Regions from separate parts of the Homo sapiens genome. Here all the other regions are reported to be linked to region 2. Evidence: microRNA targets listed by miRTarBase, many of them from high-throughput screens and not tested one by one. Region 2 holds a microRNA gene; each other region holds the end of a gene's coding sequence.
The links. The annotated mature microRNA hsa-miR-3166 reads CGCAGACAAUGCCUACUGGCCUA and lies in region 2 at 1,966-1,988, shown strand. An mRNA with a match to its seed (bases 2 to 7 or 8) in the 3' UTR can be bound and repressed. Matches are read on the target gene's strand: a 7mer-m8 pairs with bases 2 to 8, a 7mer-A1 pairs with bases 2 to 7 and ends in A, and an 8mer does both.

Region 1: miRTarBase lists PLXNB1 as a target of hsa-miR-3166. Seed matches in the 3' UTR shown: 7mer-A1 at 649-655 and 7mer-m8 at 790-796.
Region 3: the mRNA of CEP72 is a reported target of hsa-miR-3166. Seed matches in the 3' UTR shown: 8mer at 877-884.

The regions. Positions count from the first base shown.
Region 1 is chr3:48,400,788-48,404,891 of GRCh38, reverse strand. PLXNB1 (plexin B1) reads left to right here. Exons shown (of 38, transcript NM_001130082.3): 38 at 302-1,038. The coding sequence ends at 406. Among named protein-coding and RNA genes, the nearest start is that of PLXNB1, 27 kb to the left of the region's middle.
Region 2 is chr11:88,174,596-88,178,699 of GRCh38, forward strand. MIR3166 (microRNA 3166) reads left to right here and starts at 1,907; the gene lies at 1,907-1,998. It overlaps RAB38 (RAB38, member RAS oncogene family), which reads right to left and starts at 848. Exons shown (of 3, transcript NM_022337.3): 1 at 588-848. The coding sequence starts at 789.
Region 3 is chr5:652,328-656,431 of GRCh38, forward strand. CEP72 (centrosomal protein 72) reads left to right here. Exons shown (of 12, transcript NM_018140.4): 12 at 661-1,226. The coding sequence ends at 826. Among named protein-coding and RNA genes, the nearest start is that of TPPP, 39 kb to the right of the region's middle.

The DNA.
Region 1 (4,104 bases), not on the chromosome of region 2:
AATACTGTTGGCTGGCGGGTGGGTTAGCCAGGATGGCTGCAGCAGGGCTTCTGAGGAGCTCGCTACTGAGTCAGGTCCTTCATTTCCTACCTTATTCATCCTGGAACCCCGCGGTGACTTTGATGTTATTACCCCTCCCGCCAGCGAGGCCCTGAGGTCCCAGAAAGTACGTGAAGTGACCGGCTGGGTTTCTTGGCCTCCTACCCCACTCATGCCACAGCGTCTTAGGAGGGCTGTTGAATTTTGCAGCAAACACGTTGGCCAAAGAAGTCTCCCCTGATGGCATTGGTCTCTGTTTCAGATCATCACTGCCCTGGAGGAGGATGGCACGGCCCAGAAGATGCAGCTGGGCTATCGGCTCCAGCAGATTGCAGCTGCTGTGGAAAACAAGGTCACAGATCTATAGGAACCCAGGAGCCACGGCCTGCTGTTGCTTCAGCCTGGCCTGGGCAGCCCTGGAAGCTCGGAGGAGAGGCCACCTTCTTAGGTGCCTGTAGTGACTGACAAGCAGAGTTAGTGGAAGGTGACTCCCAGTCTCCTGGTGGCTCTGGCCTCGGCCCTGCTGGATCCACCTCCTAGACCCGGGGCCTCAAGGCTCATGGGGTAGTACCCAGCCTGCTCCCCGAGTCCAGCGACCCTGTGACACCGGTCTGCAGGGAGTTGGGGACTAAGGGCTTCCAGAGAGTGGCTGGAAGAGACTCCAGGCCCCTGGGGAGACTGTACTGTTCCTGAACACTGGCCTTGGCCACACTGGGATTCGGAGAGGAAGGAGGAGAGCCCCATGCTTCCTGTCTGCCTCCTCCACCATCCCTGACCTCAGTTGAGCTGCCTCTGGCCTTGTTGCTGCTGCCACATCCTAGGTCTAAGAGTTGAACGCCTCTCCTAGGCCACTACAAACTGACCCCTCAGCAGGGCTGGCTGCCACAGGGCTGCCCTGCCTCATAGGTAGCCATGGTGAGGGCTATCTGCTGCAGGGGGGTCTTGGGGAGAGTGGTGACTCCATTGACCCAGCTTTTCATTAAAGGATAACACACTGCACTGAGTCTGATGTGTGAGCCCGGCCTAGCCCCTGGCTACTAGGAGGACGGCAGCTATGCCCAGCAGGTACCAGGGGGAGGTGGTATCTATACTCTTGGGGAGTCTCATGGTTCCCCATCATATCCCAGACTGCAGGGCTGGCTGAGGCTCTCCTTGACGCCTGGGCAGGGTCTGGTGGGGTCAAAGCTTCCGTGAAGGAAGAACCCCATCTGGGGCAGGGCGGGTGACCGAGATAGAGGGGTCTACAGTCTCTTCAAGGGGGCCTGCTTTATCTGCAGTTTGCGTATTCTCACTTCTCCACTCATGTTCTATTTATCTTGAAAGGGACTAGGAAAGGATGACATAATTACAGGCAACTCTAGGCAGAGGGGGTCTCGAGGGCCATTTTCCATGGTCCTGTTCCTGGACTTAGGGTTTCTGTGTTGCCTTCCAAATCAGGGCATCCTAGGGCCGGCTCCTAAACTGTCTGCCTCCATGAAGGCCGCCTTATATGGTTCTTCCTGATTTGTACCTGGAGGTGAGCTTGGAGACTGTCTTATCTGGTCTCATGTTGCTAGTTGGGTCTGTAGGGCAGGGGGTTGATACTCCTCTTGACTTGAGACCACCCTCGGCCTTAGCAGAAGGCCAGCCCCCCATGGAACAGAAGAGATAGGGTGGCAGCTCTGCCTGGCAGATGAGAGGAAGGCCCTTCAGCCTTGAGGCCTTCAGAGGGATCATCCCTTTGGCCCTCTGCTTATCCTCCATAACCCAGTGACCCTTAGCATTTCCTCTCGTCTGGCACAGAGACCACAACCTCCCCTCGAGGTCTTCATTGAGTGTTTAGAGAGAGACAGACTGATAGAATTCCAGGAGGACTCCTATCCCCTGCCTTTTTTTGGCCCTAAATAAAGCCATCCACTGTAGGGTTGCCCCTACAATCCACAAAGTCCTTGTCCCTAAGGAGCCATGTTGGTCTTGTCTGTGCCGGGGGTAGTCATAGCTGCTATTCTTCGCTGTGGCTCCATTGTCCCTTCTTTCCCATTTCTGCCGGATGTGGGGACCACAGTCAGGTCAGCAGCCAGGTGCCATCATTTGGGAGCATGTGAGCTTGGATGCTCTGGCCAGGTTTTCATAGCCACCCAGAATGGTCCTGACTTTTCCCGTTGGAGACCATGGAATGGGTCTCCATCTTGACCATCTCTGGGAGCAGGGTGGATGGGAAATCCACTTGAGGGTGGACTTCAAGCAGACACAGAGGGAAGCAGCCTTGGTCAGCACCACAGACCTCGACAGAGCCATGCCTCTGTTCCAGAGGCCTCTCTGTTCCAGGTTCAGGCCCCTGCAGGTTTTAGGGGTAGGTGAAGGCTCCCGGGAGAGGGGGGCCATGTGCCTGCAAGCCTGGGCACGTGCCCGCGGGAGGGGTGAGTACTGAACGTGCTTTGAGTCACTCACTGAGTCATGGCTCAGCCGCCACAGAACATTGTTATAATAACAGACATAGAGAAGAAAAACCTGGCACAAGAAGATAGGAAATTCTGTCTTCACTCCAAACCATGACCAAGAATGGAGATTCCAACACCAGCAAGAATTTGTGATCGCTTAACTTGGGTCATGACCACAATTTCAGCATAGAACATTTGTAATTCAGTTTGATCAATCTTTTCCTAATTTTTATTAAGACTGCAACGAAAGTGTGCCCTCATTATTACATTTTTCACAAACCTGTTAGCATACAAAGGGCCTTTGTTTCTCATTACCACCCGGGGCTCCTTAAGGCGTTTTATGGAGTGATGTGCTTTATTAAAAAGCGTTTTCACCAACTTAAAAGTTGGAATAATTGTCCAAATGGTTACATGACCCAGGAGTTCTATATTTTTATTAATTTTCTGATACTGAAATAATCGTGCTAATTAAGATAACAGCTGAATTTATGCTGATGAATGTTGGAATTCTTAGAAGCCACCTGAAACCTTCCAAATGGTCAGGACCTGGATCCCACTGGCCAGTGCCAACAGGTGACTCTGGGTGGTGCTGGGGGATACAGGGAACCTAGCTGTGTTCTGCTTGGCACCAATGGCTGCTGATGCATGTGTTTCCTCCACCAGGTTCCCTAAGGATGCCACATTGAAGAACAAATACACCCCAAACTACCTAGGTCAGCTGACTGGCGATGTTTTATGGATCTCTCTTTAAAAGTGTTCTGTCGGCCAGGCGCAGTGGCTCACCCCTGTAATCCCAACACTTTGGGAGGCCGAGGCAGGCGGATCATCTGAGGTCAGGAGTTTGAGACCAGCCTGCCCAACATGGCAAAACCCCGTCTCTTCTAAAAATACAAAAAATTAGCCAGGTGTGGTGGCGGGCGCCTCTCATCCCAGCTACTCAGGAGGCTGAGACAGGAGAATCGCTTGAACCCGGGAGGCGGAGGTTGCACTGAGTCGAGATCGCGCCACTGCACTCCAGCCTGGGTGACGAGCAAAACTCCATCTCAAAAAAAAAAAAAAAAAAGTGTTCTCTGTCTTAATTAAGGATGATGGTTTATCCAATTCCAAATGTTTACCAAAAATCTAAGATAAGGATATCACCATGATGTTTGAAAGAGAATTTATGCCCTGGTTGTGATGTTGGGGTTTTATTGATAAGAGTTTCAGTTATCTGGATGATATGTGCACGTGTAAGGAAACAGAATGGTTTGCCAGTTGTCCAGGTGGCCATGAAGAGAACCTCTGGAGGTCTAGGAATGTGAAGCTCAGATTTTGGAAACCTGGTCCGGTGTCCTGGGCCACAGGTAAGTGGCTGAAGCTGGTGGTTTGCTGCCATCTTCTGGCCATAGTGTGGAATTTATCAGAAGCAGCTACCAATGAGGGTGTCTGGAGCTCTATAAATTGCAAGCCTGGGCAAGATAGCCAGACCCCATCTTTACGAAAACTGTTTAAAAATTAGCTGGGCATGGTAGCACACATCTGTAGTCTCAGCTATTTAAGAGGTTGAGGTGGGAGGATTGCTGGACTCCAGGAGTTTGAGGCTGCAGTGAAAGATTATGCCACTCCACTCCAGACTGGGTGACAGTGAGACCCTGTCTCTTCAAAA
Region 2 (4,104 bases):
ACTTGGCTTACTGTAAGCAAAAAGCAAAAAAAAAAAAAAAAAAAAACAAAACAAAAACCCTCAAACTCCTTTGTCTTAAGGGCAGAGAGAAAGGTGACAAAATTTGAAATAAAGTGAGCCACTGAAGACAGGAATGGGCAAACTCCAGCTAGCCTGGAACTATCCCGGTTTCCTCTGTGAACCAGCCTAGGGGCTTCCCCTCGGTCCGCCCCTGCACGGAAGGACGTGCGTGACACTGGGCTGCGTCATTGGCAGAACTGCCCGCGCCCAGAAAACGAGCTGGAGTGGAGAACAGAATGCAATTGCAGACAATCTTCCTCTGGTTCCCTGGGGAGGCCTGCTCTGGGCAGAGAGATCCCAGGGGACTGTGCGGGAAGGAGCTAAAGCAATAGCCCAAAAGCGCCAGGGAATGCACTTGAAGTTTCAGACGTTTTTCTTTTCTTTGAAACTAAGTTTCCAGCCCACCAGGAAAAACTGCCTCGCGACCTAGTGATTTTAATCTCACGCTTGGCCGCAAGCCGCTGCCTCGAGACTGGAAACCGGCCGCGAGGCGCTCTATCCCCCTGACCCCCTCCCCCCGCGCTCACCTGCGATATCCCAGAGCTGCAGGCGCACCACAGTCTCCGGGTCCCAGTGGAGCACCTTGAGCGCGAAGTCCACGCCGATTGTGGCCCGGTAGTGCGAAGAGAAGTTCTGGTGCACGTAGCGCTTGATGATACTGGTCTTCCCCACGCCCAGGTCGCCAATCACCAGCAACTTGTACAGGTGCTCCTTGTGCGGGGCCTGCATCCTGGCGGCCGGCCAGACGTGCCGTGCCTGACCAGGGAAGCGCAGCCTGGGCTCTGCGCACGAGAGAGACTTGGGGAGCGCAAGTGTAGGTGCAGAGAGAGGCGTGGGCGGCGGGGCGGGGGCTGGGGGGCGGAACTCCTCCCCTAGGGGTTAATCCTCCTTCCTACTCCGCGGTCTTGGAGAGGGGAGGAGACAGGAGCGAGTCCCGGGACTGGCAGCTGAAAGGGGTTCGCGTGTGGTTGCCTGTTGCAGCGCTTATTTATCCGGCGCTTTAGAGTTTCCGAAGAGCTGTTTTCACCTGTGACCCTGGCCACAAACTTGTGAGGTGTGGATCTTATTTTCCACGTTTTGCTTGCGAGAAAACTGATTGTGAAAAAGTACTCTGCGGGAGATGGCCGGTGAAAGGCCCCGTTGACCACAGGTCTGAAGTCACAGGCTCTTAACTACCCCACACTGTAGAGAGAAATTACAGTATTAGGAAGCCCAAGACTGGCTGGGCTTGGTTCCTGCGTGCCCTGGTTTTTAAGTTGAGGGACCATAAGTAAGTCATTTGAGCTCTCACAGCCTGTTATTTCTCAATGAATGGCAATGCTGACCTCTGAGCAGCTTGGAGGTGGGAACACTGAGCACTTTCACACCCATTCAACTGGTAATCAGTTAACAAGGAGGACAACTGGGCCGAAAATGCCAAGGGCACTGGTGACTTTTAGCCTCTTCCCATATCCTAAAAACTCAGAGCTGCACAGAAAGACAGTTTTAACAATCGGTCAGATTATTACAAATAATAATAATGGCAAACATTTATTGAGCACTCGCTATATGCCAGAGGGTTTATAAATTATGTCATTTAGTCATCCCAGCTGTCTTAATAATAGATACCATTTTTCTTCCTATTTTACAAATGAGGAAGCTAAGGACCAGACATTTTAAGTAATGGACCCAGAGTCAAATAGTAAGGAAAAAAACCAAATTCAAACATAGGTCTTTAGGTTCCCAACTTCTTTTTGTTGTTTTTGTTGTTTGTTTTCATTCATTTGACCAATATACATTTTATTACCAATTAATATATGACAAATTGTACTTATTTTGTCTTGTCTGTCTCCACCTACAAGAAGGTAAATTTTTTTGAGGCCAGTAGGCATTGTCTGCGTTAGGATTTCTGTATCATCCTCCTAACGCAGACAATGCCTACTGGCCTAAGAAAAATTTACCTTCTTGTGGGTGGAGACAGGACAAGACAAAATAAATACAATTTGTCATATATTAATTGGTAATAAAATAAGGCAGAAAGGGGATGTGAAGAGATTATATGGGGTTTGCCTTTTAGATAGGGTGGCCAGGGAAGGTTTCAGTAAGATGGAGACAATTTAGTAAAGACATAAAGAAAATGAGAAATTGGGCATTCAGGGCTAGGGGGTGAGCAGTTTATACCAAAATGAGCTATTTTGTACCTGAATGTGCTGTGAAGGAGCTCTGCTCACATTCTATCATTTCATCTTCTCAATTGCTTTATGAAGTGGGTTATTTTCTTCAATTTATAAATAAGGAAACCAAGATTAACAGCAGCTTTCTCAAGGGCACACATAACTAGTATGTGTTAGAACTAGGACTTAAACACAGGCCTGTGTGAAAGGGAGAAAGGAGGTTTGGCAAGGCCATTGTCTTTCTGCCTTCCTCTTCTGGCCTGACACTCCCTAAACTTTAGCCTCCACATGCCCCAAACAAGCAGAGGGATGCTGAAGATGTGTACCCGGGACAAGTCACATAACCTCTGAGCCTTGGTTTCCACATCAACGAAAGGAGAATGATAATACCTATGGCAGGGCATGGTTGCTCATGATTGTAATCCAAGCACTTTGGGAGGCTGAGGTGGGTGAATCACTTGAGGTCAGGAGTTCAAGACCAGCCTGGCCAACATGGTGAAACCCGTCTCTACTAAAAATACAAAAATTAGCCGGGCGTGGTGGCAGGTGACTATAATCCCAGCTACTTGAGAGGCTGAGACAGGAGACTATCTTGAACCAGGGATGCAGAGGTTGCAGTGAGCCAAGATCACACCATTGCTCTCCAGCCTGGGTAACCTGAGCAAGACTCTATCTCTAAATAAATAAATAAATAAATAAATAAATAAATACAAATGAAATTGTTGATAAAATGCTGGGTCCATAGTAGGTGGTAAATAAATTGTAGCTATTACTATGAAATGAGGGACAAGCTTAAAATACTGTCCACAGGCACTGTCCTGTGCAGTTTCATCTTTCCTCAGAGAGTAACTCAGAAGTTTTGCTCAGAATGGACACTAAGTGACAGTGTGTAGAATTGCAGTCGTTTGTGTTTTATTGAAGTGCTTAGCTGGGTAGGCCTCATTTACTGGTTTCCACCCATGCGAGGACACACCAAGAAGATCACATCTAACAAGTGAGACAAATACTCTACCTGCTTAAAGAATTAGCCAACAATGTCACCTCACTTCCCAGGGAGGGGAATTCAGTAGCCCAAGATGCTTAAGCCATTCTAAATGCCTGCAAAATTAGGGAGGATGACAAAATGAGACCTTTGCCAGCTCTAAAATCCTGGGTCTGTAAATCTGAGAGACAGGCTTTGTCTGGCCAACAAGCTCCTGGGGTAGAAACAAGGTAGGAGTTTGAGACATCTTGTGGGCCAGCCTTCAAAATTATACCCAACCCAACTTTCTTACCAGCCCCGTACTGTTTTCCCAAGCCTGGTCCCGGCAGAGTCATCCTCACCCTTATCTGTTCTCTTTTGAGCAAGAGCATATTGGAACATCAGACATTTGGATTTATGAGGTAGGACAGGCAGGGCAAAGTTCAGGATTTCTGGTCCTGAAGCTGATAAAATTGGAGGAAGTAGCTTTTTGAGCAAAAGAATGCAAAATCAAAAATATATAATTAGGTCTAGGGCCTTGGAAGGGGTCCTGAAGCTTCAGTTTTATTGCCTCTCTGGGGGTAGGAGATTCCTCTCTCAGGGACAGCAGCCAACCATGGTGAGCAAGTTCCTTGGCCAGGCAGGAAGTATGTGCAGTTTTGTTTCCAGCCGTACTCATTTAGGTCTCATGATCATTCTTCACAGTGGGAAGAAATTACTCTCGGTTTATATTTTTAAGACTTTTAGATTACAGTAGCTTGGTAAGCACCCCAGCCTAGCAGTTCAGTAAAATCTTCGTAAAAGGCGCCTAGGTCTCTGAACCTGAAAGTCCCTTGGGTAAAATGAGGGAGTTAGGTTGCAAGATCTCTGGAAAGTCCTTTGGACTCTAAAATATCAGAATTCTGGGTCTTCTAGACATTGTCTAGTAGG
Region 3 (4,104 bases), not on the chromosome of region 2:
GCCTGCACAGTGGCCCTGTCAGTGGGGTGCCCATCTCTGTGGCTAATGTGACCGAGGTCAGTGGGCCCTGCCTTGTCTAATACTTGTAATGCCCTGAGTGTCCTCAGGTCATCGCTGACTGGGTGATTAGGGCAATTTGGAGGTGACAAAGTGGGTAAAATGTAATAGCACTTTACTTCTAAAATAAAAATGGTCAACAGCATTAAAGACTAGGACTCTTCTATTGCACTATTATGATGTCAAAATTATTATATTTGACTGGGAATTAGAACTATTTCAGTCCCCGTATATTTTCTAGAATTAGAACATTGTTTTGCTAGCCATGAAGTTTATCATCTTCTCATAAAACCATGCGTAGCTGGAATAGCCAAGGCGCCATTCAGTCACTCATTAGCCTGTTCAGCTCATTCATTCATTCCATAGGTGCTGAGCCGCACCTCCAAGGCTGCTCCCAGGGGTCAGGACAGTGGTTGGGAAGGAGGAGGCAGGTGGGCGGTAGCCAGTGGGACACAGAAGGTGATGGGGCCACAGAGATAGGTCTGTGTGCAGGGCCAGGGCACCTTCGTGCCCATGCAGGGAGGTGGGCAGGCCCAGCAGGTGAGGGCCACACCGCTGGAGAGGACGGAAGTGCCAAGCAGCCGCTTCCCTGTTGTTCTGCAGCTCCCTGGTCAGCACCAATGAACACCTGCTGCAGGAGCTGAGCCAGGTGCGGGCGCAGCACAGAGCCGAGGTGGAGCAGATGCACTGGAGCTACCAGGAGCTCAAGAAGACCATGGCCCTGTTTCCACACAGCAGCGCCAGCCATGGAGGCTGCCAGGCCTGCTGACTCCTGCCGAGAAGCTGGGCCACCCCTTAAGCTTCCTGGTAAAGTTACATTGTCTGCACCTTTGTACTTCTTTATTGAGTGTACTGGCTGGCAAGAGTTCTCTCTTCTGTTGGTAATTATTTAGGATTTTTGGAATGTATTCAGGACCTGTAGCTTGGTTTTCTAAAGCACCTCGTAAAATGATATGATTACTCCAAGCCCTCTGCATGTTTTCAGACAGAACACATTGACATATTTTGAGACAAACTGACTATTAATCTTGTATCCAGTATCCTGAGATGAAGTAAATGCAGTGTTCTACTGCCTGATGTGAAAGAGAGCTATGTATGATAATTAAAGAAAATAATTTTCTGTGTAACAAGCAATCTTTATTTAATAAACAAATACATTGTTCTGAAAAGTTAACTTTTTCAGTGGCTGTATACAAATTATAACTGAGTTTGTCATTGAGTTTTTTATAGAACAAGCTGTGCACCATGATAGGTGAGTGGGAATAATTAAGTTCAAAGACTTAACACAAGTGACACTTATAGATGTGGGGGAAAAAACCTTAAAAATATTGTCTTATGATATTAACATATCACAGCGGAAACATCTACCCAAGCCCTGGCTCGCTCTCTTGTTTGCAGTGTAGTTCTGAAAATTATGTCATAATAGGACACAAAACTAGATTTTTAGTTTGGAAACTTCATATCTTATGTCATACTTGCTGTGATTGGTAAGACAAGGTCATTTTTTAAATGACGTTCAACTGATTTGGGAAGAATGAGCAGGCCTAAGAAGAAAATGCTCTGTGCTAGCTCTGTGTGTGTGTGTGCCCTTGCTGTGTGTGTGTGTGCCCTTGCTGTGTGTGTGTGCTGTGTGTGCGCTAGTGTGCGCTTGCTGTGTGTGTGTGCTAGCTGTGTGTGTGTGCTGTGTGTGCGCCTAGTGTGTGTGTGCTAGCTGTGTGTGTGCTAGCTGTGTGTGTGTGCTGTGTGTGCTAGCTGTGTGCGCTTGCTGTGTGTGCTCTGTGCGCGTGCACTTGCTCTGTGTACTAGCTGTGTGTGCATGCTAGCTGTGTGTGCGCTTGCTGTGTGTGTGCTAGCTGTGTGTGCATGCTTGCTGTGTGTGTGTGCTTGTGCGCTTGCTGTGTGTGTGTGCAGTTGCTGTGTGCTAGCTGTGTGTACGCTTGTGTGTGCGCTGTGTGTGCGCGCACGCACCCTGTGTGTGTGCTGTGTGTGCACGCGTTGTGTATGTGCACTTGCTATGTGTGTGCTTGTGTGCTAGCTGTGTGTGTCTGCTAGCTGTGTGTGTGTGTGCTTCTGTGTGTGTGTGTGTGTGCGTGTGGATTGTATCCCTGGGGAAATCAGAGGTGGGACTCTGCTGTCTCTTCCCCGAAGAGGACTTGCTAGGCTTCAGGCTGCCCTCTTGTGTCACCTCTCTGTCCAGTTGTGGTCCTAACAGGAAAATGTGTCATACCAAATTTATTTTCTGTAGGGTTGGGATGGGGTTAATTTGTCATCACGTAATTTATGTATGTAAGAGTATTAGAAGATGTTAATATTAATCCACTTTAAGCTTATAGATGCTTACCTCGTTTGGGTTTCATTGAGCTTCTTGGACCTGTGAGTTCATATTTTTCACCAGATTTGGCAAAGTTGCAGCCACTACTCATATTTCTTGTCTGACCCCGTCTCTCACTTCTTCCTCCCTGTCCCCATCTGGGACTCTAGTTAGCTTTCTGTTAGACTGTGATACTGTCTCTCAGGTCACTAAACGTGATGCTTTTTCATCCTTGTTCTCTCATCCTTTCCTTTAGGTGGTTTTATTGTCCTGTTGCGAGGCTTACTAATCTTTTCTTCCACTTGCCTAATTTGATGTTAAGCTTGTATAGTGAATTTTTTATATCAGAAATTAGGTATATTTTTGTTCTAAAATTCCATTTGAGGCTAGGCGGGGTGGCTCACACCGTAATCCCAGCACTTTGGGAGGCTGAGGCAGGAGGATCACTTGAGGCCAGGAGTTTGAGACCAGCCTGGCCAACATGGCGAAACTCCATCTCTGCTAAAAATGAAAATTAGCTGGGCATGGTGGTGGGCACCTGTAGTCCCAGCTTCTTGGGGGGCTGAGGCAGGAGAATCGTTTGAACCTGGGAGGCGGAGGTTGCAGTGAGCCAAGATTGCAGCACTGCACTCCAGCCTAGACGACAGAGCAAGACTCCGTCTCAAAAAAAAAACAAAAAAACTCCATTTGATTTTTTTCATTAGTTTTATATCCCATTATGTTCACGTTTCCATTAACTGCTTAACCATGTTTTTAACAGGTTTACTAGAAATTCCCAACTGTTCCAAAGTGGTGGTACCCGCAGGCCCGACTGCTAGTTGTGTATGACCACGTCTGCCGGTCCATGTTTTCAGCACCCATTGCCTGAAGTGTTAGCACCTTCACTCCGGTGGGTGTGGGGTAGTGGAGGGAGTGGGGTGGTGGAGGGCGCGGGGTGGCGGAGGGCGCGGGGTGGTGGAACGTGTGGGGTAGACCTCTTTCTGGTTTCATTGGCTTCTCCTTGTTCAGCACCTTCTCATGTGTCTGCGGCTCATTGGGATTTCCTGTTTGTAAAGTACCTATTCAAGTATTTTCCCTACTTTTCTATTGGATGGTCTGTCTCATTTATTTGCAGGTGTTATTTATGATTCTGGGTAGTAGTGCTTTGTGAATTACATTTGCAAATAGCTTTTCTTGTCTTTTTACTTCAATGGTGTCTTTTAAGAGAAATTTTAAACTTTAATATGGCCCAATGTATCAATATTTTCTTTTATGATTAAAGCATTTTGGATCCTAATTTTTAATAATCTTTACTTTGCCTTGATCATAAAGATACTCTGTTACCTTCCAAAGGATTTTATAGTTTTGTATATTTTGGATTTTAGATATAGATTCTACCCAGAATTGATTTTTGCGCCTGTTGTGAAGCTTAAGGATCCAGTTTCATTGTGTTGCAGACATAAGCCCAGTTTTCCCAGTCCCGGCTGCTGAAGATTCCTTTGTCAGGATGATCTCTGTGTCCGTTTCTGCATCTCCTTGTCTGTCTCTGCCAATACCACACACTCTGGGGCGCGTACCTCCATCTTATGTTAGGATGTCTTGGCTGTTTTTGACCCTTTGTGTTTCATACATTTTAGAACTAGCCGGTCGAGTTGGGATTTTGTTTGGGATTGTGTTGAACCTGTAGATCAACTTGGGAATCATTGACGTACTTGCAGTACTGGGTTTTACAAGCTCTGAACATGGTATCTGTCTCT